6 linked regions of the Homo sapiens genome follow. The protein of the gene in region 5 purifies or fractionates together with the protein of the main gene of each other region. This does not show direct contact. Each region holds a gene or a part of one and is shown on either strand. Other genes may lie near its edges.

Evidence for each region.
Region 1: the proteins of PC (region 5) and IFT88 purify together in Homo sapiens (co-immunoprecipitation; one large-scale study listed by IntAct). This does not show direct contact.
Region 2: the proteins of PC (region 5) and MDH1 purify together in Homo sapiens (co-immunoprecipitation; one study listed by IntAct). This does not show direct contact.
Region 3: the proteins of PC (region 5) and MCCC2 purify together in Homo sapiens (affinity purification with mass spectrometry, with the first as the bait; one large-scale study listed by BioGRID). This does not show direct contact.
Region 4: the proteins of PC (region 5) and FOXJ3 fractionate together in Homo sapiens (co-fractionation; one large-scale study listed by BioGRID). This does not show direct contact.
Region 6: the proteins of PC (region 5) and ELSPBP1 purify together in Homo sapiens (co-immunoprecipitation; one large-scale study listed by IntAct). This does not show direct contact.

Annotation. Positions count from the first base shown.
Region 1 is NC_000013.11:20,601,657-20,605,156, reverse strand, and holds part of IFT88 (intraflagellar transport protein 88 homolog), read right to left. Parts: intron 3,453-3,500; coding exon 3,224-3,452; intron 123-3,223; coding exon 52-122; intron 1-51. UniProt on the Homo sapiens protein: Positively regulates primary cilium biogenesis. Also involved in autophagy since it is required for trafficking of ATG16L and the expansion of the autophagic compartment.
Region 2 is NC_000002.12:63,597,052-63,602,483, reverse strand, and holds part of MDH1 (malate dehydrogenase, cytoplasmic), read right to left. Parts: intron 5,086-5,432; coding exon 4,910-5,085; intron 3,315-4,909; coding exon 3,192-3,314; intron 1-3,191. UniProt on the Homo sapiens protein: Catalyzes the reduction of aromatic alpha-keto acids in the presence of NADH. Plays essential roles in the malate-aspartate shuttle and the tricarboxylic acid cycle, important in mitochondrial NADH supply for oxidative phosphorylation.
Region 3 is NC_000005.10:71,653,110-71,657,271, reverse strand, and holds part of MCCC2 (methylcrotonoyl-CoA carboxylase beta chain, mitochondrial isoform 1 precursor), read right to left. Parts: intron 530-4,162; coding exon 412-529; 3' UTR 1-411. UniProt on the Homo sapiens protein: Carboxyltransferase subunit of the 3-methylcrotonyl-CoA carboxylase, an enzyme that catalyzes the conversion of 3-methylcrotonyl-CoA to 3-methylglutaconyl-CoA, a critical step for leucine and isovaleric acid catabolism.
Region 4 is NC_000001.11:42,184,256-42,189,687, forward strand, and holds part of FOXJ3 (forkhead box protein J3), read right to left. Parts: intron 5,150-5,432; coding exon 5,048-5,149; intron 4,674-5,047; coding exon 4,482-4,673; intron 1-4,481.
Region 5 is NC_000011.10:66,874,130-66,879,561, forward strand, and holds part of PC (pyruvate carboxylase, mitochondrial precursor), read right to left. Parts: exon of another isoform or gene 4,181-5,432; intron 1-4,180. UniProt on the Homo sapiens protein: Pyruvate carboxylase catalyzes a 2-step reaction, involving the ATP-dependent carboxylation of the covalently attached biotin in the first step and the transfer of the carboxyl group to pyruvate in the second.
Region 6 is NC_000019.10:48,003,523-48,008,954, reverse strand, and holds part of ELSPBP1 (epididymal sperm-binding protein 1 precursor), read right to left. Parts: intron 1,874-5,432; exon of another isoform or gene 1,732-1,873; coding exon of another isoform or gene 1,614-1,731; intron 305-1,613; coding exon of another isoform or gene 288-304; coding exon 218-287; intron 1-217.

The sequences.
Region 1 (3,500 bases), on a different chromosome or scaffold from region 5:
ATATTTTAAATAATGTAATTAATAACTACGTTATTAAGTTTAAAATATTACCTTTCACGTTCCATTTGCCTGAGGTGATCATTTTTTATAGCTTCAGTTACTAAGTTAGTATGAGGATCATCCTGGTAAAATAAAATGGAAGAAAAAAAGAATAATTCAGAAGTAAACAGCAAGAACTTAATTTTTGTTTTGTTTTGTTTTGAGATACAGCCTCACTCTATTGCCCAGGCTGCAGTGCAGTGGCATGATCATGGCTCACTGCAGCCTCCACCTCCCTGGGCTCAGGTGATCCTCCCACCTCAGCCTCCCAAGTAGCTGGGACTACAGGGGCATGCCATGATGCCTGGCTAATTTTTGTATTTTTTGTAGAGATGAGGTTTCACCATTTTGCCCAGGCTGGTCTTCAATTCCTTGGCTCAAGCAATTTGCTCACCTCAGCCTTTCAAAGTATTGGGACTATAGGCATAAGCCATCATGTCCAGCCACGAACTTGAATTTCCAATAAGCCTCCCTACTAATTAGTTTTAAAAAAGGGAGAGTAAATTAATCCTTCTATTTTCCCTTATGTAAATTAGAACTTTCTTTTTCATATTTCTGATTACCAATCACATTCTCCATTGAACTAACCTATTCTAAGAAGCTGATAAAAGGATCAGGATGGAAAGATTAGGACCAAGTACACAGAAGCTGGGGTTGTTAGTACAAATATGTAATACTTTAATTCTAAACTCAAATATAAATGCTTCAATCATCAATTACTTAGTATGATCCATATCTCTACTCCCCATTAAAAACACAGATGATTTTACAACATATATTATTTTTTCTCAATATGAAAATAATATATAATAATTAACATTTGCCCAGCACTTAACTATCTTTCACATACATTTTTTTTGTTTGGTTAGTTTTGTTTTGAGACAGAGTCTTGCTCTGTTGCCCAGACTGGAGCACTGTGGCATGATCATGGGTCACTGCAGTCTCAACTTCTGGGCTCAAGCCATCTTCCCACTCAGCTTCTCGAGTAGGTGGGACTACAGACATGTGCCACCATGCCTGGCTAATATATATTTTTTTTATTTGTTATTTTACTTTTGAGACAAGGTCTCACTCTGTCATCCAGGCTGGAGAGCAATGTTGTGATCACAACTCACTAAACCCTTGACCTCCCCGGGCTTAGATGATCCTCCCACCTCAGCCTCCAGAGTAGCTGGGACTACAGGTGCACACCACCAGGCTGGCTAATTTTTTATTTTTTTGAGACAAGGTCTTACTCTGTCACCCAAGCTAGTGTGCAGGGGTGTGATCACGGCTCACTGCAGCCTTGACCTCCTCGGGCTCAGGTGATCCTCCCACCTCAGCCTCCCAAGTAGCTGGGACTACAGGTGTGCAACATCAAGCCTGGCTAATTTTCGTATTTTTTTGTAGAGATGGAGTTTCGCCATGTTGCGCAGGCTGATCTTGAACTCTCAGGCTCAAGCAATCCTCCCACCTCGGCCTCCCAAAGTGCTGGGATTACAGGTGTGAGCCACTGTGCCCAGCTGCCAGGTACTATTTTAAGCATTTCACATGCATTAACTCATTTAATCCTCACCTATAATCCTCACCTTAACCCTGTAAGATAGGTTATAATAGTTAATCCCATTACATATATAAAAGAACTGAGACACAGGGAGAGTAAGAGCTGAGTAGGAGAGCCAAGGCATCTGGCTTCAGAGCCTATACTCTGCTATGCTACAGTACTCTTATAATCTTTTTTTTTTTTTTTTTGAGATGGAGTTTTGCTCTTGTCACCCAGGCTGGAGTGAATAGTGCGATCTCGGCTCCTGCAACCTCCACCTTCCGGGTTCAAGTGATTCTCCTGCCTCAGCCTCCCTAGTAACTGGGATTACAGGCACCCGCCACCATGCCCAGCTAATATAATCTGTTAAGAAAATCTATTAAAAGTTCAACTCTGTGAAATTGAAAATGTACCATTTTTATCTACAAATAGAGGCAATTTTCCTTAAACTAATATACAGTATGCCAATATTTTATTTGTAAAAATCTGGAAAATATTTCAAAAGCATTTACAATCTCATAGCTCAGAAACTACTGTTTTATATTGGTGTCAATTCTTCCAGTTTATGTTCATGTATAAGTGTGCATAGCTGTATGTTTTCACTTAACATTATATAATATTTCTCTAGGTGTTTGAAAATATGACTTTTGATAACTGCATTATGTTCCACTCTATGAGTAAGGATAAGGAATTTATTTCACTTTTTTTTTTTCAAGACAGAGTCTTGCTCTGTCACCCAGGATGGAGTGCAGTGGCACAATCTTGGCTCACTGCAACCTCCACCTCCCAAGTTCAAGCAATTCTCCTGCCTCAGCCTCCCAAGTAGCTGGGATTACAGGCGCCCACCACCATACCCAGCTAATTTTTGTATTTTCGGTAGAGACAGCATTTCGCCCTGTTGGTCAGGCTGGTCTCAAACTACTGACCTCGCAATCTGCCCACCTCAGCCTCCCAAAGTGCTGGAATTACAGGTGTGAGCCACTGCGCCCAGCCTTCGCTCTTGAGATATTTATACACAGTTGAGGTTCCCTCTGCTCCACAATGGCTCTTAATAGGTGAAATAAGGATTTGGAGGTTTCTTGGTCAAGATATTACCCTTGGCCAGGCTCATACCTGTAATCCCAGCACTTTGGAAAGTGGAGGCAGGTGGATCACATGAGGCCAGGAGTTCAAGACCAGCCTGGGCAACATGGCAAAACCCCTTCTCTACTAAAAATAAAAAACTTAGCCGGGCATGGTGGCGCATGCCTGTAATCCCAGCTACTCAGGAGGCTGAGGCATGAGAATTGCCAGAGCCTGGGAGGCAGAGATTGCAGTGAGCTGAGACTGCACCACTGCACTCCAGCCTGGAAGGCAGGCTCTCTGTCTCAAAAAAAAAAAAAAAAAAAAGATATTATGCTTAATGAATGACATGGAATCTTATTTTTAATGATTTTTTTACTAAAATTGTGCAGTCTGTTTTAACCATAATCTCTACCCCATTTCAATAGAGTCTCATTCTCAACCCAATTTAAATAAAAAATGAAATACATCAATAATAAAACACATTGATACAGGCCTGGGAAAAACCCAAGAAGTCATCTATTCTGGCTTTCTCATTCTGAAAACAGAAAAGCACAGATAAGTGGGAAGTGGCTACAGAAATGTCTTTTTCATACTCACACTTGGTGAAATATATTTATCTTCATCAATTTCTAATGGAACAGTAATCAATTTTTGGAATGCCTTCTTCATTTTTTCTCGGTCTCCAATAGCAAAATAACAGATAGTTAGGTTGTAGCCTGCCTTCAGATTTGGTGCCATGCTCATTATGTGCTCATATGAATTAATAGCATCTGAATACTGACCAGCCTGAATAAATGTAACTCCAATATTCTGCATTATTTTAATCCTAAAAGAAAAAGACATGGATTAGCTTTAAAATTCTGAACTCTTTAGT
Region 2 (5,432 bases), on a different chromosome or scaffold from region 5:
TTTGATAATACTCTGTAGTTATGTAAGGTACCATCAATGGGTGATGGGTACATGGGCCTTCTCTGTACTATTTTTTTGCGACTTTTGAGTCTAAAATTATTTCAAAATAAAAAGCAAAAAAAAAAAAAAAAAAAAACCCCAACCAACCAACCGAAAAGGATAAAGATGAAAAAAAAGGCCATTACCTAAAATGTCTGCAATGACTCGACTGGTCTTCATACTAATTTATTCAGTTAAGTAAGAAGTAAACTGTCTTTACTTTCACTCCCACTCTTAAACTAGTTGAGACTGCTTTCTTAAATCCTAAAATAGTTAAAAGTTTACTTAAAAATTTATGTTTGTGATATTGTAAATCACTTTTGACCGATCTAATCCCTGCAAGTCTTGCAAGTATTAGGACTATTATCTACAATATTTGCATTAGTCTCCACAAATTAGTTCACAGTTGGGTTTCTGGGGTACCCAGCTATTGATCTGCTTAGCCTGTGGGATAGGGTAGAGTGGCACGCTGTTCAATGAGTACCATTTTTTACGTCTGCCATGACCAGAAAGAACTGGGGAAGAAACTGCTCTTATATTTATACTTAAATTTAGCTGGTATGGTATATAGAAAAAGATAAATTTATACCTTGAACAATTAACTCAAGATATATATTACCAGGAAGTTAGAGCCTATAACTTCCCTGAATGTCTGCTTCAATGCTCCCAAGTACAGTGAAGACAAAATGCCTCTAGGCCTCTCCACCCTCAGTCCTCCTTGGCTCCCATGCCTTCCTTTGTTCTTGTTGCCCTCCTCCTCTTGCTCCTTCTATCTCTTGAGCTAATCCAGTTCTGTCTGGACAGCAAAGGCCAGGTACTTTGCATCCAGCAGATATAGTTTCTTAATATGATTCATGTCACAATTAGTCTAAATTAATACATACCCAGGATAACAGCTCTTTGCTCCCTTAGACACTCATGTCTGTCACATAGGTCTGTTAAAAGTTTTTGATTAATTCTCCAGCCCTAGTAATTTTCTTACAAGCTAACTGGTATCATTGTCAAATTACCTTATCTGGTATCAATGTCAAATTACCTTATCAGCAGACATAAATACAGCACTGGTTTGCAAATACACAGGCAAGTTCTGCAGGTGTTAAACAGTCCCTAAGTCGCTAAGGCCTCTGAATTCCAAGACAAAAATATCTAGCAACCAGTCCTGTAAGAAAAACTTATCTTTGGGTTTGTTATTTTTCTCACTGGATAAACAACTTCTTCTAGAGGAAGAAAGTGCTTCTTCAATGACTCCCTAAAAGCTCTCACTATGCCAGATTGACATGCTGAAACAATGCCTAGCCAAGGTCCCAGGAGTAACAAAGAACATGTCCCCAAGTGAAGGTTAAAGTCTGAGGAGATAGCACTTTCTTTCCTCTTTGCTCATTCAGACTTGAGCCCTGCAGTGAGAACTGTTTCAGGCACCAGGACAAAGTATCTCTTTGAAGTACCTTTGGAAGCAGAATTTTCCAATGCCTGTCTCCACCAAAGCCTCAGGTGAAACAACAAAAAGTGGTTGTTAGTGTCATTGTTGTAGGAACTTTCTTGTTGTAGGAACTAAATAAGTCACTTTCTGGCAATCCAGAGTTTGCAACTGTAACATGTATAATATCTCTTCCTTTACAACTGTCCCACAGAACTCAAACTGCCTGCCATTCAAACAAACTCCTATTCGTTCTCAGCTACCACCAGACCCAGCTCACAGCCTATAGCCTCTCAGGGAATATTTGCACTTTAAGCTAAAAATTTAAGGGTTGTTATCCAACAACCCTCTAAATTAGGAATGTTTAGGCTGTATGCTTCTTAGAAAGAAGAAATCAACTAATAATAGCAGCCAACCTTTCTTGTATTTACTATGTGCAGGCACCATGCTAAGGGCTTAAAACAGATCTTATTTAATCCTCATAAGAACTCTCTGAGGTAGATACAATTATTACATTTTAAACATTGAATATACTTTCTCAAAATCACAGAGCTAGTAAGTGGACTAAGGTTAGTTGATACCATTAGGTAAGAACATACATAAGGGTTTGGAGTCAGGCAAATCAAGGTGGCTCCGTAATTTATGAGCTGTATGACTCTGAGCAGGTTCTCTGACTTCCCTGGGCCTCAGTTTTCTTACCTAATGCAGGGATAATATGAGATACCCATATGGTTACTATAAAAATTAAATGGAAAATTACATGTATAGCATTCAATTTACAGTAGATGCTTAACAAATGTATATTCTTTTCTCTTTCACTAGGCATTCCAGAGCTGAAGGATTATTAATTCTCAGGTTAGGGCAGTAGTGCTTCAGCTTAGACCTCACAGCATCTTCTGGTTAACAACAATTTTTTTTTGAAACTAAAGTTATCTTCTCTAGAAGAAAAAGCACTGAACTCATAGACCTATCTAGCAGTGATGACCTACAGACAAGAAGGGATGGCCAGAAAAGCATTAGGGCAAAGGAAAGAGGTTCTGTCCAAGAACGGGCACCAGGACCAGTTAGATCTGAAAAAGCCTAGGAAACTAGCTCAGATCAGTTGCCTGGCTTCTAATTTTTTGAAAAGCTATTGTTAATTCCCTGGTCACTGGCTCCTTGGCATACTTATCTATGGCTCTAAGAGTAAAGAAAATTAGCAACAGACTTTAGCTCCTAAGTAGTGAAAGGAGGAAATTTTACAGATACACATAGAATATTAAAAAGACATAAAATGAAAATTAAATATAAAATTAAAAATTAAAATCTGAATTTGATGGCTTAGCTGCAGCTAAAATAGAAGCAGAACCACACAATCACACAAAGCTCAAGTCTTTGTTTATATGAGATTATATGTATCTGAAAAAATTAAACTAAATTATGTACCATCATGTATAACTAATTTTTAACCACTGTAACAAGAGAACATTAGTAACTGCATTTCATTATAGTTAGCAATTGAAATATAGTTAAAGACGAAATCAAGTAGGAAGTCCAGCCTCTGGTCCTTTAAGAGAATACATTTAAAGACTCCCTAACAAATGAATAATAATTTACTTTTAATTTAATAAAAGTAATAGGTTCCTACTAAACAAAAACAAGAAAAAAGCACAAACTCAGATTCAGTTATTTTAAAAGTGAGAGAAAAATGTTTTAAAGTTGAACAACCACAAGATTTAAAATATATTTTTCTTACTTGAGCTTTAGCTCGGTTGTGATCCAAACGAGTCAAGCAACTGAAGTTCTCCTTGGGGATGGATGGAGCTGACTTGGAAGCAGTCAGGCAGTTGGTATTGGCTGGATTACCCACAACAATAACCTAGGAGGAATGGAAGGCACTGAAGAGTTACAGACTATATAGTTACTAACTAATCTATGTTAAAATTTGACTGAAAATGTCTAACAGGTAGCCTTTGTACAGGGGAGGCTTGGGAAACACCAAATACAATATAGCATAGGAAAATGCATTTTAAGTTATAAAAATCTTTTATAAAATGGTAATAAAAAATTTTGAAATAATATCAGATTTATAGAAAAGTTACAACCATATTACAGAGACTGACTCCCATATATCTTTTTTTTTTTTTTTTTTGGTACCTCTTTTGACAAGCTGTAGACAAGATACTTCATTGTCTCTAAGTAGTGCAGTGCTGGCAAATATTTCTCACGAACAAGGACGCTTTGAAGAAGTGGAATTACTGTGCAAGGAGTACTTTACCTCCAAATAGCCTGCAATTTAGCAGTCTGAACAATCTTCTAATCTTTTACTGGCACCTGTGGATTTCTATTAAACTCATTTATACTATTTTCTGTGATGACAGAAAATAAGTTAACTATTTAAAATGAAGTGCACAGAAAGCAAAAAATGCAGATATCTATGAAATGTTATTGATAGAACATTATAATGGGCAACTTAAAAAATCTTAAAAAATTTTCTTTCACCTTTTTTTGAAAGATAGGAAAGTATATGGAAATCAGTTAAACCTTTAACCGGCAAGCCTATTTGCTGGGTGACAATTAAGTTCTAGTTAATTGATAGTTCACTAATAAAAGAAGGTTTGGCTGGGCGTGGTGGCTCACACCTGTAATCCCAGCACTTTGGGAGGCCAAGACAGGTGGATCACCTGAGGTCAGGAGTTCGAGACCAGCCTGGCCAACATGGTGAAATCCCGTCTCTACTAAAAATACAAAAATTAGCTGGGTGTGGTGGCGTGCAACGGTAGTCCCATCTACTCACGAGGCTGAGACAGGAGAATCGCTTGAACCCGGGAGGCAGAGGTTGCAGTGAGCCAAGATTGCACCACTGCACTCCAGCCTGGGTGACAGAGCAAGACTCCGTCTCAAAAAAATTAAAAAAATTAATAAAAAATAAAAAAGGCTTACTGTAATATTAAGACATATTAGAATCTAAAGTAAATAGTTTGAACACAAAGAGAGAACTATAAGTCATACTGACTCAATTCTTCAAGAGACAAGCATATTAAAATTCCTCTGCATTAAGAAAATCTGAGCATTCAGAAACCACTATCTTCTATTCCTGAGAATAAACTTACCTTACAGCTAGCTATCTCCTTTCACAATCACACACAAATTTAAATGTCTAAATAAATATTCCCACGCAGCAAAAATGCACCAGAAGATCCTGTGCCTTCTCTATATGTTTAAGAACTAATACTAAATTTTCACGTTATACTAATAGGAAAAATATTTTTGAGCACTCTGAATATAGATTTCTATACTGTAAGAAAAAACCCAGAAAGGGAGAGCTTATCAAGCAAAACTCTAGAGCCGTATTTACTGATGATTGTACAGAACTAGAAAAAAGGGCAAATAATTTTGGTTTTGCTTAAATGCTAAAAGCATAAGTTTCAAATGCTAATAATGAAAAATCCCATAAAATACAGCATTGGTCACCTTAACTGACTTCTTGGCGTATTTATCTAAGGCTGCACCCTGGGATTTGAAGATTTTCACATTTGCTTTCAGTAAATCTTTTCTCTCCATGCCTTCCCTTCTTGGCATGGAGCCCACAAGAATGGCCACATCCAGGTCTTTGAAGGCAACGTCTTCTTTATCTGTTGCGATGACATCTGTGGACATGGCAATAAATACGCAGAGCTACTTAAACATCAAAGTTTGAAGTTTTCTTTTTCATATTGAATCTACCCATTAATTCTTTCACTTGTTGCAAGTGTTTACATATCACACTGATATACATTTCAGGAGCCTGAGAAAGATAATATATTAATTTAACAATCATAACATTAGAAATGTCAATAGATTTATTTTGCTTTTCCTGTTTCAATAATTACTTAAATGTCAAAACTCCATAGCTTTTATCTTTTATAATCATATATGATGCAAGGTATAATGATGACTTTTGAAGTGACACTTGTTATTCACACTAATTACCACACAACACAAAAGAGCAACTAAT
Region 3 (4,162 bases), on a different chromosome or scaffold from region 5:
GCCTTTCAAAAATAAGCCCGCTAAAATATCACCAAGCATAACCAGCAAAACAATCATTTCAGTGAAAATACAACTTTATATTAATCATCTCAATAATACAGATTACAGAACTGAGTTTACAGATTACAGAACTTTTCATACTTTGTGGGTCAGAAAGGATAACCGTAAATTACTGTCTCCGCTTTATGGGTGGTAAAACTGAGCCACAGAGAAATTTCTCTAAGAAAATTTAAAAGGAATTGATGTTCATTAAATAAATATCCTCACTGATTTTTTTAAGGTAGAAAAGTACAATGCACAGTGTTAAAAAAATTACTGTAACAGCCTCATGTTCGAGAAGTCTAAAATTTTAAGGCTACTACATGTGTTAATTTTCAGTACATGTCCAACAGAAAACATCCTTTATTCCAGTTACATCCTGAAGATACCGAAGTCAGTCTTCTCTATTGGTGCGTTGAGGGCTGCACTAAAACTGAGACCCAAGACCAGTCTGGTGTCTGCTGGATCAATGATCCCATCATCCCATACCCTGACAAAAGAACAAAAAAAGAGTTATGAATTTACCACCAAACTACCATTTATACACTCTCCATGTGCAGAAATGCCAAGGAAGTTTTCCTTCAGGTAATATATGGATCTACTGATTAGCATCCATGTACCATAATCTCACAACAGAAACTACGTTCAAGACAGAGGGGGAAAACGTGGAAAAAAATGATATGACCTTCATCCCAGGCCACCACAGAATGTCATGTCAGGCTTAAGGCTTAAGGAACTACTTTTATAAGAGATCTCAAAGTAACCCCTAATTTGACAATACGTTTACTTATTTCAGGAAAAATTTTCCTATTCCTTTTCTTCCCACACAAATATATAAGCCAAGTTGGTGTATTCTGTCATTAATATGCAGAACCACATATACCCAGGTAATAACCTCAAACTTTACTGGAAAATGTATATTCCCCAACCCCCATCCAAACTCTTAAGAAACTATGAAAATTATTGAATAGGCTTCAGTACATTTTATCTTATTTATTATTATTATTATTTTTGAGATGGAGTCTCGCTCTGTCACCCAGGCTGGAGTGCAGTGCAGTGGCACGATCTCAGTTCACTGCAATCTCCGCCCTCTGGGTTCAAGCAATTCTCCTGCCTCAGCCTCCCTAGCAGCTGGTATTACAGGAGTGCGCTACCACACTTGGCTAATTTTTGTATTTGTAGAAGAGACGGGGTTTCGCCATGTTGGCCAGGCCAGTTTTGAACTCCTGACCTCAGGTGATCCGCCCACCTCAGCCTCCCAAAGTGCTGCGATTACAGGCGTGAGCCACCACACCCGGCCAGCTTCAGTACATTTTATTAATAAAATAGATACCTTCAAATGTAGGTCTTTATTTTTTGCTACAATAGGAAAAACAATAACTTTAAACTGCTTGCAGAAGAAACTTTTAAGTAGAAATTTTAGTTTCCTTCTCATTGACAACCTCAAATGTATAACGAAAAATGACTGAGAAATATTACTTTTTAAAGGTTATTAGTAGGTGGCAGTTTGCTTTTTTTATATAAACTCCCTTCGGTATCTGAACCTGGCATCAACTATTAAACCATTCTTACATTGACAGACATGAATCAAACCTTTGCTCATAAAACATTCATAATAGGGACCCTAAAGTATCAACACCCAATAAAAAGAAAGCCACTCTTGTCATCTGCAACCAGGTGAATTGATTACACTCCCTCTGAAGCCTGCAGCACAGCAAGCATGGTGATGAAGGGGCTGCTTAATAATGTTCATTAAAAAGACTGCCCCAGGTAAGAGGCACTAATGAAATGCCGGATAAAAGTTTGATTATAAAAACAACTGAGCAGAAGCAAATTGGCACGCTACATATGTAACCTATTAGGATTAAGGAAAACATTGTAGGTTTCAGTAACTGATAATAACAAGCTCTGTCTCTGAAAAGACAGATCTAGCCATGTTCAAACCTAAGCAGGCCAGGGAATTTTACTGTGAAGCTGAGATTTACTAAACCCAAGGAAGGTACCATAAACTGGCTTGGAAATCCTTTCAGCTTTGAAAGAAAGCTGCTGTCTCCATGCCACCAGCTGTTTCAACAGAAGGGTTAAACATCTACAGATCTGGCCAGGTGCAGTGGCTCATGCCTGTAATCCCAGTACTTTGGGAAGCCGAGGCGGGTGGATCACCTGAGGTTGGGAGTTCGAGACAAGCCTGACCAACATGGAGAAACCCCATCTCTATTAAAAATACAAAATTAGCCAGGCGTGGTGGCACACGCCTGTAATCCCAGCTACTCGGGAGGCTGAGGCAGGAGAATCCCTTGAACCCAGGAGGCGGAAGTTGCAGTGAGCCGAGATCATGCCATTGCACTCCAGCCTGGGCAACAAGAAACTCTGTCTCAAAAAAAAAAAAAAAAAATCTACAGATCCACAGAAAACTTTACTGTCTGTTAACATTTATTTCCAAAGATAAGTCTCTCTGGGCCATTTACTCTTCTGCCTTGAATGTAATCCATTAAAAAATAATAATAATGTTAGTATGAAAATAATAAAAGATGCAATCTTTCTCAAGAGATGATTTATCTTAGCCAGGGCTGAAAAACAAGCTAACAGCTCACACAAAATACACAATTTTTCAAACTTTAATATTTCAGCTGTCCCTGTGTATTTCAGTCAAAATCTTATGTGGAAAAAAAAAACTATAGAAAAGCTTAACAATATATATTTTATATTTCATCTCAAACCTCTTATACGGCTTTCTATTGCTTCTTTCCATTTACTGGCTACTATATGTCTGTTTACACGATGATAAAATCAGGAACATGTTTAGCTCTCAAAGACTATAAAATATTTTGTTCTTAATTAAATGAATCAAACCACCACAATAAAATATACCTGTAAATTTGTTTGTAAAAATATATATTCAGCAAAAAACCTTTAAAAATTCCCAAATATTGGCCAGCCACGATTACAGGTGGCTCACGCCTGTAATCCAAGCACTTTGGGAGGCCGAGGCAGGATCACTTGAGCTCAGGCATTCAAGACCAGCCTGGCCAACATGGTGAAACCCCATCTCTACAAAAAATACAAAAAAATTAGCCAGGTGTGGTGGCACATGTCTGTAGTCCCAGCTTTGGAGGCCGACGCAAGAGGATTGCTTGAGTCCGGGAGGCAGAGATTGCAGTGAGCTGAGATCACGTCACTGCACTCCAAACTGGGCAACAGAGTGAGACTCTGTCTTTAAAGAAAACAAAAACAAAAACACATACACACACCCAAATGGTATTATTTATCTCCTCAAACTAATTATGTTCTTGAAAATCAGTATGTTTTGTCTTTGTATCCACCAAGGAACCATTCAAATGATTGTAATGGACTCTAACTTTTGCTTTTTTTTTTTTTTTTTGAGATAGGGCCTTGTTCTGTCACCCAGGTTGGAGCACAGTGGCATGATCTCGGCTCACTGCAGCCTTGACCTCCCAGGTTCAACTGATCTGCTTGCCTCAGCCTTCTGAGTAGCTGGGACTACAGGTGCACACCATCACGCCTGGCTAATTTTTGTATATTTTTTGTAGAGACTGGGTCTCACCATGTTGCCCCGCTAGTTTCGAACTCCTGGGCTCAAGCAATCTGCCCGCCCTGGCCTCTCAAAATGCTGGGATTATAAGTGTGAGCCACTGTGCCTGGCCTGATTTTCTTTTCTCTCCCCTCTCCTCTCCAGTTTGCCTTCGCCAGCATAAATTACAACATAAGCTAATTTTACAAGATGCAGAAAGAGTTACTTTCTTTTTTCCATCTGCCCAAGGGATGAAAGGAAGACATGAAGCTTAGATTAGTCTTCGGAATGCAGAACACTAAAGTTGTTGAAGAAAGATGTGAAAGCAGGCACCAGCAGGTCTTCAGCTGGGACAGGCATGATAATTTATTACCTCATTAAGTGGTGTAAGAAAAAAACCGAGCCAACAGCGGCAATGGTCTGTGAGGTAATTATTTGGCGCCGACACACAGACCCTGGCAGTGACTAATCACCTTTCAAACGTACAAGCATACTTGTCAACAAATGCCAGTAAGTGTTCAACCAATCTCATGTTTAAAATGGGGTAAAAACAAAATGATCAAGGAGAGGGGTTTTTAAGCAAAAATTAGA
Region 4 (5,432 bases), on a different chromosome or scaffold from region 5:
ATGTCATAATGAAAATGTAAAACTGATTTTTATTGGGAATTAATCTTTTACCACTTCTCTTTTATGGCTTCGTAATTCTTACCTTAAAGGCAGAGGGGAGAAAGAATTACAGGATTATGACAATAAACAAACATCTACATAAAAGTCTTAACTTTCTGTAATTCCATCATATGCGTAACACTTTTATTTTCATATAGAAATTCCCATTAATTCTCATTTTTTCCCATATTCTCAATATAGAGTCTGAATGAGTGTATTCCTGAATTTCCTATGTAAGAAATTAACTTCCAATGCAGTTTCCAAAGATTTCAGGCACTGCTCGAGGCACTATGGATACAGCAATGAAAAAACACAACTCTGCTTTTCGGGTGTGTATTCTTGGGCATGTTGGGTAGGGGCAAACAAAGTAAATTAAATAGTATGTAACATGCTATGGAAAAAAAGCAGAGAGAGAGAACAAGGACTGCTGAGTAGTGGTGCCATTTAAATAGGATGACCAAGGAAGGCATCCCCTGAGCAGGTGTTTTTTGAGGAAAAACAACGGAACAAGATGAGGAAATGAGTCATGTGTCTAACTGAGGGAAGACCACTCTGGACAAGAGGAAATAGCAAGTACAAAGGCCCTGTTTAGGTAGAGTGTGCTACCTAGTGTGTTCAAAGAACACCAGGGAGACCAGCAGTGTTGAAGCACAGGCGTGGAGGGGAGAAGGCAGAAGACAAGATCAGAAATAATCAGTGATCAGATTGTGTAGGCCATATAGGCCATAGTAACAACATTGGTCTTTACTGAGAAAGATGGAGGGTTTTGAGCAGAAAACAGACGTGACATGATCTGACCTCTCTGTCTTGCAAAATCCTACTTAACCTACAAAGTCCAGCTTAAATATGCTGTCTTCTAGAAAAATTTTCCATCTTTCCAAGAGAAGTATGCACCCCTTTCTCTGAATTCTTATTGCACTTAAACCCTATGGAGAAGTGTAGCCCTCAACATACTGAATTTTTTTTTTTTTTTTTTTTTTTGAGATGGAGTCTCGCTCTGTCGCCCAGGCTGGAGTGTGGTGGCGCGATCTTGGCTCACTGCAAGCTCTGCCTCCCTGGTTCATGCCATTCTCCTGCCTCAGCCTCCTGAGTAGCCGGGACTACAGGCGCCTGCCACCACGCCTGGCTAATTTTTTTGTATTTTTTTAGTAGAGACGGGGTTTCACCATGTTAACCAAGGTGGTCTCGATCTCCTGACCTCATGATCCGCCTGCCTCGGTCTCCCAAAGTGAACATACTGTATTTCTTGATGGATCTGTCTCAACCACTAGGTTGTGAACTCTTTTAGGTAAAAGCTACTACAGGGGTCATGTCTTTATTCTCAGTGCCCAATACAAAGCTAGACACAGAAAAGGTGTCTAGTGTGTGCTCAATGACTGCATTCCTACCTATATTTAATGATGACCTTTAAGCAACGCATCAAATTAGAATAGTAGAGCCAGAAGATATAAACAAATTATAACCACAGGTAAAAAGATTTAGGAAAAGATGTCATAGACTGTGTTCTATAACAACCTTCTCCCCTTCCCCCTTCCACACTAGCACACTACACCACTAATTTCTGGAGTCTACAGGAAGCTCATGGAGGTGTTTACCAAGCGGGTCCTTGAAGACAGGAATGACAGGAAAGGTTTAAGGAAATGGAGAGACTATATTCTGGGACTCAAGACCTACACCTAAATGAATTTTACAACATTGGGTAAGTCACTTTCTCCCCCTGGATTACAATGTCCTTATCTGTTAAATAAAGGGATAAAATTAACAGCTCTCTGAAAGTCTCCTCTTGACTATACTTCTAAGAAATTATGACAAAGAATTACTGGGGTGCAGAGATGAGGGAAGTAAAAGATCTGAATGGATGTGATACACAGGGATGTAAGACAGAGAAAAAAGGAATGACAGAAAGACACTGACACTTAAAACAAGAGGAAGCAGGCTGGACACGTAAAAAAAATCTGAATATTTGTGAACAGACATCAGCAGGCATGAAGTGATGAATACTTGGAGCACCATAATTGATGAGAGAACAACTGTTGTCAGAGGCCAAAACAGCTTGGCAGGCATGAGTCAGAAGGAAAATACAAAAGGGGAGTGAGAGTAGAAAGAATTGAATAAACACTGAAGAAAAACTATAGTTTTTCTACCTTTGATAGGCTGTGACTAGGGTAGCACTGAGAATCACGAAGGTGTCATCGGGACCCTAGAAAGGAGGAGGGCCCTAACAAAAGAGATGACAGAAAAAATTAACAGAATCACAGAACACCAGAACAAATAACCAAGGTCAAGGCTCAAGAATAGATGACTACAGAAGTTGAGGAACAAAGGGCTTCAGGAAAATAACTCAGGATCTCAGTCTAGAGAGAATCTAGAAGGAGTGCCTGGGTACTCTGACAGAGGACAGCAGCAGATAAAGTGTTTTTTCCATGACAAAACTACCAAGTTCCAAGACCAAAAGGTACACATAGACCTTTCTTACAGACTTAGGGCACAAAACTGAAATTCACCAACATGAGAGCTGCTGCCTAACATGTACACTGGCTTTTGAGATTGCCTTCTTCTTCTTCTTCTTTTGAGACGAAGTCTCCCTCTGTCACCCAGGCTGGAGTGCACTGGTGTGATCTCGGCTCACTACAACCTCCGCCTCCCAGGTTCCAGCGATTCCCCTGCCTCAACCTCCCGGGTGGCTGGGATTACAGGCATGTGCCACCAGGTCCGGCTAATTTTTGTATTTTTAGTAGAGACGGGGTTTCGCCATGTTGGCCAGGCTGGTCTCGAACTCTTGACTTCAGGTGATCAGCCCGCCTCGGCCTCCCAAAGTGCTGGGATTGCAGGCATGAGCCACCATGCCTGGCCGAGACTGCCTTCTTCTAACACTGACCCACATCATCTTCTACTTCTCCTGCCTACGGCAACAATCTATGAGCAACACAGGTACTTACCCCCAAACACACAAGACTAGTGATATATACATAAGCTATTTAATTTCACTTAGTACTTTTTGAGGCTGACTGAAATGGTTAGAGATGGAGTTAGCAAAGAAGTGAACAGCATGACAGCACTCAGAAGCAACAATTTTGGATGAACACAGAAAGAAAAGAGGAAAGGAGAAAAAAGGGACAAAAAACAGAGAGAGGTGGTACACCTGGTCTAAGGAGGACTTAAAGCAAGTTGGAAAAATTAAAGTGATATATCCTGAAAGGGACAAAGTATGGGCTTAGAACCCATGAGAGAAACAAAGAAGACACGCTGTCCATCTGCAAGAAAAGATTTTAAAAAAAGAAATGGAAGAAGGGCACATAAGTGAGGATACCTGAATTACAGAGATCTTGATGCTTAAAAATGAATATATATCAGAAAGATACCAAAAAGAACTAACAAAAGGAGAGAGAGAGAGAGACAAAGAAGCTATAAAGTTATCAAAAACTAAATTTTAGTGTCTGGCACAGAGGGCAATCAGCCAGGGACTGAACAAGGCCCTTGTGTGGATGTAATTTACTGAATGAATAGGTCACCAGAATCAAATAGTGACTGAAGGTTTCAGGCAAGGTAAGCTATTCAAAATAGCTTAGGAAAAGCTATTCAACGTGGAAGAAGAAAAGATAATAGATTTCCACTACATCAAAGGATACAGGAATAAAGATTTCATGAAAAGAAAGACACAGACTGATAAGCTTGACTTGAATAAACTCAAACCATGGGTGAACGAAAGATGTGAAGTAAGATAGAATAATGGTTAAAGGAAGCCACTCAGGATAGAGAAGAGAGAGCTTGTTGGCATAAAATGTAAAATCAATATAACATACAGAAAAGAAGTAAACTTGATGATAAGAGAAGGTAAGGAATTAAAATGAAGAAAGAAGTAACTTGGATATGAAATTCCTACAGAAAAATGTGCAATCAGAGTAGAAGACATGGCTGCAAGGGTAAAGAATGAAGGAAGAAAGCGAGATTTAAAAAATATACAGGAAAGATTTTGGGTCTAAAGTAAAACATCAGTGAGACTATTTTCCATTACGTCTACTCTTCAAACACTTCGAATTGTTCAATTTTAACATTCTTAGGAGATACACAAGACACGTTGATTTCCATTGCAGATCTGTACAAATTTAAATATAATTTCATAATTATGTTCCTATAAAAACGTAAGTATCTCCAATATATTTCTTGTTTGATAACTTAGTAAAAGGATAATGGTTACAACAGTTAACTGTAAATAATAAAGCAATCATATAAATCACAACAGAAAAACATAGTCTCATTACCTCAATTTTTCTAAGATATACCCTACATATAAATTATTTGCTTTCATTCATTTCTTATAAATAAAAATTTGTAAACAGATCACTGTCACCATTAGCAGCAAACCAAGTTGGTTAAGACAGTTACTAAATTTCGTACGAATGAGAAAATGAGAAAAATCAAGAAGATAACTAACCCCATACCTGTTCCAATGTGTTGGGAAGGTTTTGTTGGATGCATGGCACCATGACAAACATTTTGTTGAACATTACTCTGTGAATGTATAAGGCCAGTTTGTGTAAAGAACTGATTAAGAGAAGAACAAAGATCGGCAAACTGAACCTGGTCTAAAGACCAGTTCTTGAGATCTGCCTGTCTCATACTCTCCATCAGACCTATGAGGAAAGCATTAAAAATATGTTAGCACTGTTATGCAATAAACATTGCAAGGAAAATAGCAAGACATAATTTTTTTCAGCTCTCAAAATTTCCACTCACTCCACTTTATGGTAGTGATTTATCCACGCAATGAAGAATGACCTTTTTAAATTATTCAAAGCCCAATTATTTTAAATGTGGTCAAATTTCTTTCAGAACTTGTCTGTGACCCTCTGCTATACCAAGTGGCCAAAATTATTATGAATTTTACCAACTGCAAAAGAAATGCTATATAAGATGATGTTTATTTCTACTACAAAGAAAGTTATAATCTAGCAGAGAAACAGGATCATGTGTATTTGGTTATATGTCAAAAAGAACCAACACTCACCTTGAAACTGTGAAAGGTCTACATCTGACCAATTAACACTGCTGGCAATTCGACAGCTTTCTTTTAGCATATCAAGTGTCGCATACCAATCATTTGAAACACCTATAAAATATTGACAACAGTGTAATTCCTGGATGGTGAAAGGGTGAAGTGTGGTAAGGGAAAACGATGAGCTGCCCTTATTCCTGAAATTGGCTGATTCTTGTCCCGTCTTACAAGGGGATTTGTACCCATTATATCACGTGTTGGGCAATCTGCTCTGTGAGACAGGCAGAAAGGTATTATTTCTCTCCATTTTACAAATAAAAGAAACTGAACCAGAGAAGTGACATAACTTAGCAAGGTTATCATGATGAATCTAAGACTTGAACCCAGGTCTTCTAAC
Region 5 (5,432 bases):
TTGTATTTTTAGTAGAGACAGGGTTTCACCATCTTGGCCAGGCTGGCCTCGACCTCCTGACCTCAGGCGATCCACCTGCCTTGGCCTCCCAAAGTGCTGGGATTACAGGTGTGAACCACCACGCCTGGCTGTATTTTAAATAAAGATGGGGTTTCACCATGTTGGCCAGGCTGGTCTTGAACTCCTGACCTCAAGTGGTCTACCCGCCTCGGCCTCACAAAGTGCTAGCATTACAGGTGTGAGCCACCACACCCGGCCGATCTGATTCATTTCTTAGAAAACGTTTAAAACACTTGACTCAGCCATTTTGTTTTAAGTAAGGAACATAAAAACATACTCAAGAAATGAAACAAATATTGCAAAAACCTTAGTGCCATATTACAGCCAACAACCTAGAAAAGGGGAAATAAAGACAGAAGAAAAAGAAAAGAGAAGAAACAAGGAAATAAGTAGAAGAAAGAGAAGAGGAGGAGGAGGAAAGACCCACAGCCAGGGGAGAAAAACAGAAAACCCCACTAGGGGCAGACCTTATGCCAGGCACAGTTCTAAGCCTTAGGAGTCGAGAACACAACAGTGAAGGGTTCTGCTCATGGAAGATGAATGGCAGTGAAAGGAGCAAAGAAAAGAAAAACAAGACACAAATCAGAACATTTCAGATCACAAGTGCCTGGAAGATAAGAAACAGGTGACATTTTGCGAATGATCTGGGGCGGGTGCAGGGGTTTGGGGGCTGGATATTAGAAAAGGCCTCTCTGAGGAGGGGACACAGAAGCTGGGACCTGGATGGGGAGAAGTCGGCCACGCACAGATCCGCAGAGAAAGCTCCAGGAAGAAGGGATAGCAATTGTGAAGTTCTCAGGAAGAACAGGCTTGGTGCTGTCCTGAGAGAGGGAAGTGTGAGCCCACGGCCTGAGGTGGGGCTGCAGCCACAGACAGGGCCCAGTGGTTGAGGCCTCCCTTCAGCCATGGACAGGACAGGAGGGACATGATCGATGCACAGTGGAAAGGATCTCTCTGGACTGGCGAGCAGCAGGGGCTGACAGACGACGCATGTCTGGGGCAATTCAGAGGCTGAGCTGAGAGACGCGGAGCCTCTGACAGGGGGAAGCTATGGGGGTCGGGGTGGGGCTTAGGAAACATCTGGGCTATGACAGACAAGATTCGTCGAGAGACCCCCCATAGAAAGCAAGGTAGAGGAAGAAATCCTGTATGGGTGGGTGGAGATGACTTTTCCTGCTATAAGAAGGGCAAGACAGAAAAGGCAGGGCTGGGAGTGAGGCAAGCTCACAGAGGGGGAAGAGCAGGGACAAGAACCTGGGCAGCATCACAGGGGCGGTGGTGTCTGAAGCCAGGGAGAGAACAGCCTGGGAGAAGTGGGTCAGGCCTGCGTCTTCAGGCCCACTGGAGTTGAGTCTGGCCGAGGAGGAAGAGCCAAGAAGGAGCCCAGGGGGGATGCCTGGAGGAGGGAGGGACGCACGGGTCGCTGGGCAGAAGCGAGCGGCTCTCAGGAGGATGGGGCGCGAGTTGGGCAGAGCATGACTCCCAGAGGCAGGGTAAGATGGGGGCTGGGAAGGGGCCACTGCGGTGACCAGGAGGCACCCAGGTCACACCCGGCTATGGTGAACGTGGGTAGAGTAACCTTGCTGGACTCTGGGCTCCTCCTCTTTCTAAAATATACCTTGTCCTTATTCATTGCACAGTGGAGAAACCTGGCGGACACCACGCTGACCGAGAGATGAAGGTTAATATCACTAGCACCGAAGGGATACCACACACCTCCTGATGGGGTTCCCGCTGCCGTGCACGGCCTGAATTTAATCAGGAGAAAGCAAGGGGCAAACTCAAATTCAGGGAAATTCCACAGAATAACTGGCTTGGACTCTTCAAACATGTCAAAGGTCGTGAGAGACAAAGACGCAAGAACGGTTTCAGATGAAAGGAGACCAAAGCAACAATGGTGAGAGCCACACACGATCCTGGATTGGATCCGGGTTTCTATTGCTAAGAGGACATCAGGGGACAACGATACAATTTAAATAAGGTCTGCAGGTTTGAAAGAGGATTGCGTTGATATCAATTTCCTGATCTTGATCAGTGGACTGTGGTTATGTTAGAGAACAGCCTCATTCTTAGGGAAAAACACTGAGGAACTCAAGGGTCCACGAGCACCACATCTGCAATTTACACCCACTCACATGGTTCAGGGAAAAACGGGAACAATGAAGCAAATGCTAGTATTGGGGGAACTGGGGTCAGGGGTACGAGAATTCTTTGTCTTACTCTTGCAACTTTACTGAAAGTCTGAAATCATTTCAAATTGACAAGTGAAAAGAACCATACCCACCGCTAATGCCGCTGGAGGAGATAACCTTAGGGAGTGCATGCCCCAGCACCTGCTGCTCAAGAGGTGCCGGGAGCACCAGCGAGGAGCTCAGGTGTGGAGACACCCTGCTCAGAGCAGGATGAACGTCAGACGTTATCACCCTGCTATCTCCCACATGCAGATCTACAATCCTCTAAGCCCTGCTCCAGGCGAGTTATCGGATGCTGCCCACTAGGAGGACAGGTCTTTCCCAGCTGGGAGCAGGCGGCACTGGCATCAGAGAGCAGGTGTGGGGTGTAAATCTCACCCTCCTCCTGGGCACCAAATGTCTACTCTGCTGAGCGCTGGGAAAGGCCATGTCAAAAGAGCTCAAGTTACCACATAGGGCAAAGTCAGGAAGAGGCGAGGGGAGCCTTCGGGACAAGCACAGCAACAAGACAGCAAACACAAGTGGCTCTTGAACCCACGAGAAAGCAAGAGATTCAAAATACAACCATGAGGTGCCACTCCTGCCTGGGAGCTTTGTAAATGCAGTGCTGAGCGCCAGGAAGGCCTTCAGGAGGCGGCCCGCAGGCACTGCTGAGCATCACGGCAGCTTCTCCGGGAAGCTGTTTGCAAAACTTATCAAGAGCCTTTAAGGTATTTATGCCCGGCCAGGCGCGGTGGCTCACGCCTGTAATCCCAGCACTTTGGGACGCTGAGACAGGCGGATCATTTGAGGTCACGAATTCAAAACCACCCTGGCCAACATGGTGAATCCCCGTCTCTACTAAAAGTACAAAAATTAGCCCAGCATGATAGTGGGCGCCTATAGTCCCAGCTACTCGGGAGGCTGAGGCAGGAGAGTTGCTTGAGCCTGTGAGGCGGAAGTTGCAGTGAGCCGAGATCGCGCCATTGCATTCCAGCCTGGGTGATAGAGCGAGACTCCATCTCAAAAACAAAACAAAACAAAAAAAGCCGGGCACAGTGGCTGACGCCTGTAATCCCAACACTTTGGGAGGCCAGGGCGGGTGCATCACGAGGTCAGGAGATGGAGACCATCCTGGCTAACACGGTGAAACCCCATCTCTACTAAAAAATACAAAAAAATTAGCTAGGCATGGTGGCGGGTTATGCCCCTGAGCCCAGTCATTACTATTCCAGAAATCCAACCCCAGGAAATATTCCAAAATGGGAACCAAGATGTACGCAGAAAGATGTTCAAAGCAGCATTATTTACAACAGAAAATCATGAGAAGCAATTTAAAGATTCCACACCCTGGCTCCCACAGACATTATGTAACCATTAACAATAATGTGTTTGCACAGGTTTTGATGACATGGGAAATGCTTGTGATGTAATGTGAAGCCAAGAAAATTTAATGGTAAACAACATGATCTCATGAAGTTTTTTTAAAGGAATGGCAACAACTGTAGGACTGCTTGCATGCCACCCTCCTCACTCCCACGTGCTATGGAATTGCTGTAGAGTTGTGTTTTCCTCCTTCTTTATGCTTTTCTATATTTCCATATGGAAAATTTCCATATTTTCTCCATTGGGGATGCGTTATTTATAATTAGAAAAAAAAGAAGAAATATACAGAAGGGACAGGAAGAGCTCCGCAGGAAAAGGCGAAGGGAGCTCCTGCTACACCGACTCCTTGGGTGGGAGGACTTGGCTATGTGTCTCCCAGGAGCCTAGCACCCTCCCCCTCCTCACCTGCTGGCCTGCCTATAGGTGAGCAGCCTCACAGCTGGCAGCAGCCCACTGGCACCGAGATTCTCAAACCTCCAGGGCAGTTTCAAGCTTTTTCCAGGGAGCCCCAGTCCTTTCCTCCCACCTGGGTGGGTTTACCCTGCGACCACAGGGGCACTTACCCGTGGTTTGTGGGTAAACAGGTCATTTTTGTTGCTCTCCTCCCCTGTCCACACCACACTCACTCCCCACTGCCTTTTCCATGCAAAGAAAGAGATTTCCTCAGAAGATATGCCAAAGGCCGGTCACCTCCAGAGCCTCTGGAAGGCTGCACCCTGCCCCACAGCGTGGCCACCAAGTGTCTGCTTAGCTCAGGCAGGAAAATGATGGAGTGCTGACATGTTGCCGCCCCCTCGGCGGCCCCTCTCACATACATTCTTGCATTGGATCCTCATTTTTTCTTGGTGGGTAAAGGATTCCTTAGCAGTCCCACTCCACCAAGAGCCGGAGGCTGTGGGCAGCGGGGGGCACAGGAATGCCTCCGTGAGTCCTTGTGTCCCTCAGAGGGAAGCGAAAGCAGGCCTAGACTTGAGGCCAAGAGGACTGTCCCCGGGGCACGGGAGCTCTTTGGGTGGCAGCATGCCAGGCAGATGTTTATGGAAGGGAAAAGATCAGGGCTCTTCGGCTGAAGTCAGAGCAGGGAAAAGTGGAACAGAGAGTAGCCTCCTCTGGGGCACAGCCCAGCGCAGGCCCACAGTCCACTGGCCGGGGGCTGCCCCAGCTCCATGGTTTGGGCACCTCTGAGGCCCCAGCTTTCACATCTGTAAAACGGGGTTCCACCAGCCCACCCTAAGCAGGTCATCCTGGGGGTCGACTGAGACAGTACAGCTAAAGCGCCATGCCTGGGTGACAAACATCAGCTGCTGTCACTATCTTCCCAACTCCCTCCCCTCCCAGATGAACAGAGGGCCAGGGAGGAAGCCCCCGGCCCCACACAGCTGGAAGGCCCACACACTTGCGCCCTCCCACTCGCACCATGATGCAGCTCCATGCTGACCTCCCCACAGGCCAGGCCGTCCTGGGGTGAAGGCAGCACAGGCAGCCCACCCACCAAGCCAGGCTGACCATGCACCCAATGCTTAGCAGAGTTCACTGCATAGGGGAGCCAGCAGGTGTGATGCCCACATACACTTGGAGCAAACACACAGGCCCGAGGACACCACGTGCTTTTGCCAATGCAGAAACCTGTCCCCAACATTCCTCTGCAAAGGAAGACCCACCCCAAACAAAAGTAGTTGGGAGTGTCAGGTGTTGCAGAGAGGGGGGCACCTGTCCCAGAGCACTCACCCTGTACCGGCCTTCAGTGCACAGAGGAGGGTGTCTGAGGAGCCACAGACAGCTGCTCTTCTGCCTGAGGTTACTGGCCCAGAATAC
Region 6 (5,432 bases), on a different chromosome or scaffold from region 5:
CATGTTGGGCAGGCTGCTCTGGAACTCCTGACCTCAAGTGATCTGCCTGCCTCAGCCCTGCAAAGTGCTGGGATTACAGGTGTCAGCCACCGCGCCCAGCTTCTTCTGAGATTTTTGCTAAGCCATCTCCTGCCTACTTAGTTCCAGGAATCTTTGCTTTGCCCCATTCATTCTTCTCCAGCTTCTAAATCCTCCCTGTTGCTTTGAGTGTCCTTACCTCCACTTGACTCATAGGAATAGAGAAGGAAGGTTGTCCATCCCAACAGGTAACTGGACCATCGGGTCATCTTGGCTGCCCTCTTCTCTGTGGAAAAGAAGACAAAAATTTTCATCCCACACGTCCCCTTCCTCTTCCCATTACCTCCTAGATTTGACGTCATACATGCCATTTTTCTTTCCATCCACAGTAATTTAAAAAATAGACCAGGCATGGTAGCTCACACCTGTAATCCCAGCATTTTGGGAGACCAAGACAAAGGATCGCTTAAAGCCAGAAGTTCAAGACCAGCCTGGACAACATAGTGAGACCCCACCTCTACAAAATTTTCATTTAAATTAGCCAGGCATGGTGGTGTATGCCTGTGGTCCCAGCTATTCAGGAGGCTGAGGCAAGAGGATCACTTGAGCCCAGGAGGTCAAGGCTGCAGTGAGCTATGATTGTGCCACTGTACTATAGCCTCAGTAACAGAGTGAGACCCTATCTCTAAATACACACATACACACACATATACCACACACACACATATGTTTCTACATATGTGTGTGTGATATGTGTGTGTGTTTCTACATGTGTGTATGTACAGGTTTGTAGCCTGGAAGCACAGGCTGTATCATATAGCCCAGGTGTGTAGCAGGCACTACCATCTAGGTTCGTGTGAGTACACTCTATGATGCTCACACAAGGACGACATTGCCTAACAATGCACTTCTCAGACTGTATTCCTGATGCATAACTCTACTGTCATGTACTGTCCTTAGGAAAGTGTGATGGAAAGAAAAAAATGAAACACTTGTTGAACACTTACTGTACTCCAGGCTCGATGTTCAACACACTTTATGTCACTTGGCTTTCATAAATCAAGTAATACATGTTTTAACCCCCATTTTATAGATGCAGAAACTAACACTCAGACCTGGATTGGTCACCCAGGGAGGAAAGGGCAGGGTCTGGGTTCTAACCCATATTAATGGCTGCAAGGGCCCTTCTCATTGTTGGAACCTTAACAATAGCCTTAAATCCTCCCCATGAATCACACTCATCTCCTTAGCTGGAGACGAAAGTCCTTCAGTGATTAGCATTTACCGTCCTCATTAACCATAGTTATTACTAGCTCTATTTTCCTTCGTGCCGTTTCCTTGATGACAGATGACCATGCCATTCTCAGCAGCAACAAGAACCCACAGTTTGGAATTGGTGGTCTGGATTTGACTTGAGTCTCAGCTACTATCACCACTTCTACGGCTGGCTCCCAATTATTGACTGCTTACTGTATACCGGATGTCCTAAGCTTTGTATCCACAATCCAATTTGCTCCTGAAAATCTAAGGGCAGGCATGATCATCTCCACTTCACAGAAAAGGGAAACTGAGGCTTGGGAGGTTAAGTAACTTACCAAAGGACCACAGCTGGTACGTGATGTATCTCAGAGTCAGTGCGGGCCTGTCTATACTAGTGTCAGAGTTCTTAGGCAACGTAAACCCCTTCCCCTCTATGAGCCTTTGTTTCCTCATCTGCAGAATGTATTTAGTCGTTCCTGTGTCTCCGGGTGGCCACGAGGGTCCAATTAGACCTTGATGTGAAAATGCTTTTCACTTGTAGATCGTTAGTGGCATTTATGAATTATTAAAGCCAAGGTCAGGATAGCTCGGGAAGGCATCAGATGGAACCAACTTTTAGCAAGAAACCCAGATACCGCCAGGAATCAAAATCCCAAAGTTACTGATTTAAGTCCTCCCACAGGTAGGTGGCACCACTGAGTATCTGAGCCACACAACACGCCCCAAACTTTTTTCCTCTCCCAACAGTGCTTGGCTCTCCCGCTACACATCAAAGTGTCTTTCTCCCTTTTTCTTGTCGTTCTTCCTTGAAGCCTTTTACTCTTAACCCCAGCACCATGCCTCAAACAGGCTTTTTCTGAGTGATGTCTCATTCACTACTTGTGAAGGACTCTCATTCTCTTTGGCTAGTGGCTCAGTCAGGACTTAGACCTGACAATGCAGGATGAATGAGTCAGATTCAAATCCCAGCTCCACCGTTTACCAGCTGGGTGACTTCAGGGAAATTACTTAAATTTTCTTTTTCTTTTCTTTTTTTTTTTTTTTTTTTTTTTTTTGAGACAGGGTCTCACTCTGTCGCCCAGACGCCCAGACTGGAGTGCAGTGGCACCACCTCAGCTCACGGCAACCTCCATCTGCCAGGCTCAAGCGATTCTCCTGCCTCAGCCTCCCAAGTAGCTGGGATTACAGGCACGTGCCACCACGCCTGGCTAATTTCTGTATTTTTAGTAGAGACAGGGTTTCACCACGTTGGCCAGGCTGGTCTTGAACTCCTGACCTCAAATGATCCACCCGCCTCGGCCTCTTAAAGTGCTAGTGTTACAGGCGTGAGCCACTGGGCCCAACCTTAAATTTTCTAAGCCTCAGTTTCGTCGTGTCAAAACATGAGGATGCTAATCCTATCTACCACTCAGCCTTGTTATGATGATTAACGACAATCATAAAAATATGACAGATTTGGGAGGCCAAGATGGGAGGATTGCTTGAGGCCAGGAGTTTGAGATCAGCCTGGACAACATAGTGAGACCTCATCTCTACAAAAATAAAAAAAATAGCCTTGCATGGTGGTGCATGCCTGTAGTCCCAGCTACTCAGGAAGCTGAGGTGGGAGGATCACTGGAGCCCAGGAGGTCGAGGCTGCAGTGCACTATGATCGCACCACTGCACTCCAGCCTGGGCGACACAGCAAGGCTCTGTCTCAAAACACAAAACAAAACAAAAAACAGATAAAACTCATTGAGTGCTACACACTATTCTAAATTCACTGTAATCCTGATAGGAAGTAGCCCAACGTGGTAGGTACCATTACTACCCCAGATATGCACAGATGGGGCACAGTAAGCTTAAGCACCTTGCTGAGGGTTACAGATCATGCAAGTTGGAGAACTTGCAAGTGAACTCCAACAATCTGACTCAGTTCAGAGTAATTGAGCTCTTAACCAATGTACGATGCTGCCTCTAGGCTTAACATGGGACCGGACATGTGCTAAGAACTCATAAATATCATCCAAAATAGTATTGTTCATATAGTATTGTTTCACTTCTGAGAGCCAGAACTGTATTTTCAACTGCCTCCCAGACATGTCCACCTAGATGTCCTTCAAGCATCTCAAATTCCAAGCTTTGGCTGTTGAGATACAGCCCAAAATATGCTATCCTTCCCCCATGTTACTTCATTTAATTGCACTATGTTCTTCTCAACCACCTGAGTTGTAGCCCCCAGTGTAGATCTGCTGTCCCTGTCTCTTGCTGTGTTCTATCAGTCAGTTGGTTCTACTTTCTGGAGCTCCTGAATCTATCCGCTTTTCCTGCCTCTGCTGTTAAAGACTAAAGGAAGGCCTTTTTCATTTCTCTTCTCAACTATTCAACTGTTGTCCTGTTGCCTCACTGATATGCAGCCTCCAGCCTCTCTCCTCTACAAGGCTGAGCTCTTTTTCTCTTTTTGTTTTTTTCTTTTTTCTTTTCTTTTTTTTTTTGAGACAGGGTCTTGCTCTGTCACCCAGGCTGCAGTGCAGTGGCGCCATCATGGCTCACTACAGCCTCCATCTCCCATCAAGTGATCCTCCCACCTCAGCCTCCCAAGTGGCTGGGACTACAGGCACGCATCACCACACCCAGCTAATTTTTAAACTATTATTATTGTTTGTAGAGACGAGGTCTTGCTATGTTGCCCAGGCTGGTCTCAAACTCCTGAGCCCAAGCCATCCTCCTGCGTAGCCTCCTAAGCACTGGGATTACAGGCAAGAGCCACTGTGCCCAGTATGGGCCCTTTCCTGATGCATGCTTTATGCATCCACTCAGGAATGAGTATTTATTGAGCATTTAAAAGATGTGGGGCCAGGGCTACACGATGAGTATGCAGCAGTGGGTAAAGCAGGCATAGGCCCTGCCTTCGTGGGGCTGAGAGTCAACCAAGGAGACAGATATGAAGCGAAGAAACCAGAAACAAATACAACTCTTCGCTGTGATCATTGCTGTGGACGAGTCTCAGGAACAACTAGGACAAGGTCACTTTTGATTGAGAGGTGAGGGGAGGGTGCTCTGAGAAATGACAGGTAAGCTGACACCTGGAGGAACAGATGGAGGAGGGAGACGTGAGAGGAGCTGGAGGTATGGGGGTGGGGGATACATCCAGGCAGGAGAAGCCGACGTGGAAACTGCCTGAGATGGAAAAAGCTAGATGTGCTCAAGGAGCAAGTGGGACCCGCATGGCTAAGGCCCAGGCTGGGCACAGTGGCTCATGCCTATAATCCCAGTGTTTTGGGAGGCTGAGCAGGAGGATGGCTTAAGCTTAGGAGTTTGAGACCAGCCTGGGCCACACAGTGACACCTCGTCTCTACAACAAGTGAGGAGGAGCAAGGCCACAGAGATGCATGGTGAGATGGATGGGACCGGACCCTGTAGAGCCTCCCTCAGATTCTAAATGCAACCAGAAGGCCAGGTGTGGTGGCTCATGCCTGTAATCCCAGCACCTTGGGAGGCCGAGGCGGGCAGATCATCTGAGGTCAGGAGTTCATGACCAGCCTGGTCAACATGGTAAAACCTCATCTCTACTAAAAGTACAAAAATTCCCTCCACATGATGGTGCGTGCCTGTAATTCCAGCTACTCGGGAGGCTGAGCCAGGAAAATCGCTTGAACCCAGGAGGCAGAGGTTGCTGTGAGCCGAGATCATACCACTGCACTCCAGCCTGGGCAACAGAGGAAGACTGTCTCAAAAGAATAGAATAGAATAGAATAGAATAGAATAGAATAGAATAGAATAGAATAGAATAGAATAGAATAGAATAGAAGCAACCAGAAGCCACGGGAGGGGTTAAAGTGAGGAGGAGTGGGCCGGACACGGTAGCTCATGCCTATAATTCCAGCACTTTGGGAGGATGAGGTGGGCAGATCGTCTGAGGTCAGGTGTTCGAGACCAGCCTGGCCAACATGGTGAAACTCCATCTCTACTAAAAATACAAAAAAAAAAAAAATTAGCTGGGCGTGGTAGCAGGTGCCTGTAGTCCCAGCTACTCAGGAGGCTGAGGAAGGAGAATCACTTGAACCCAGGAGGCGGAGGTTGCAGTGAGCCGAGATCGTGCCACTGCACTCCAGCCTGGGTGACAGAGCAAGACTCCATCAAAAAAAAAAAAAAAAAGAGCAGGGGTGGCATTT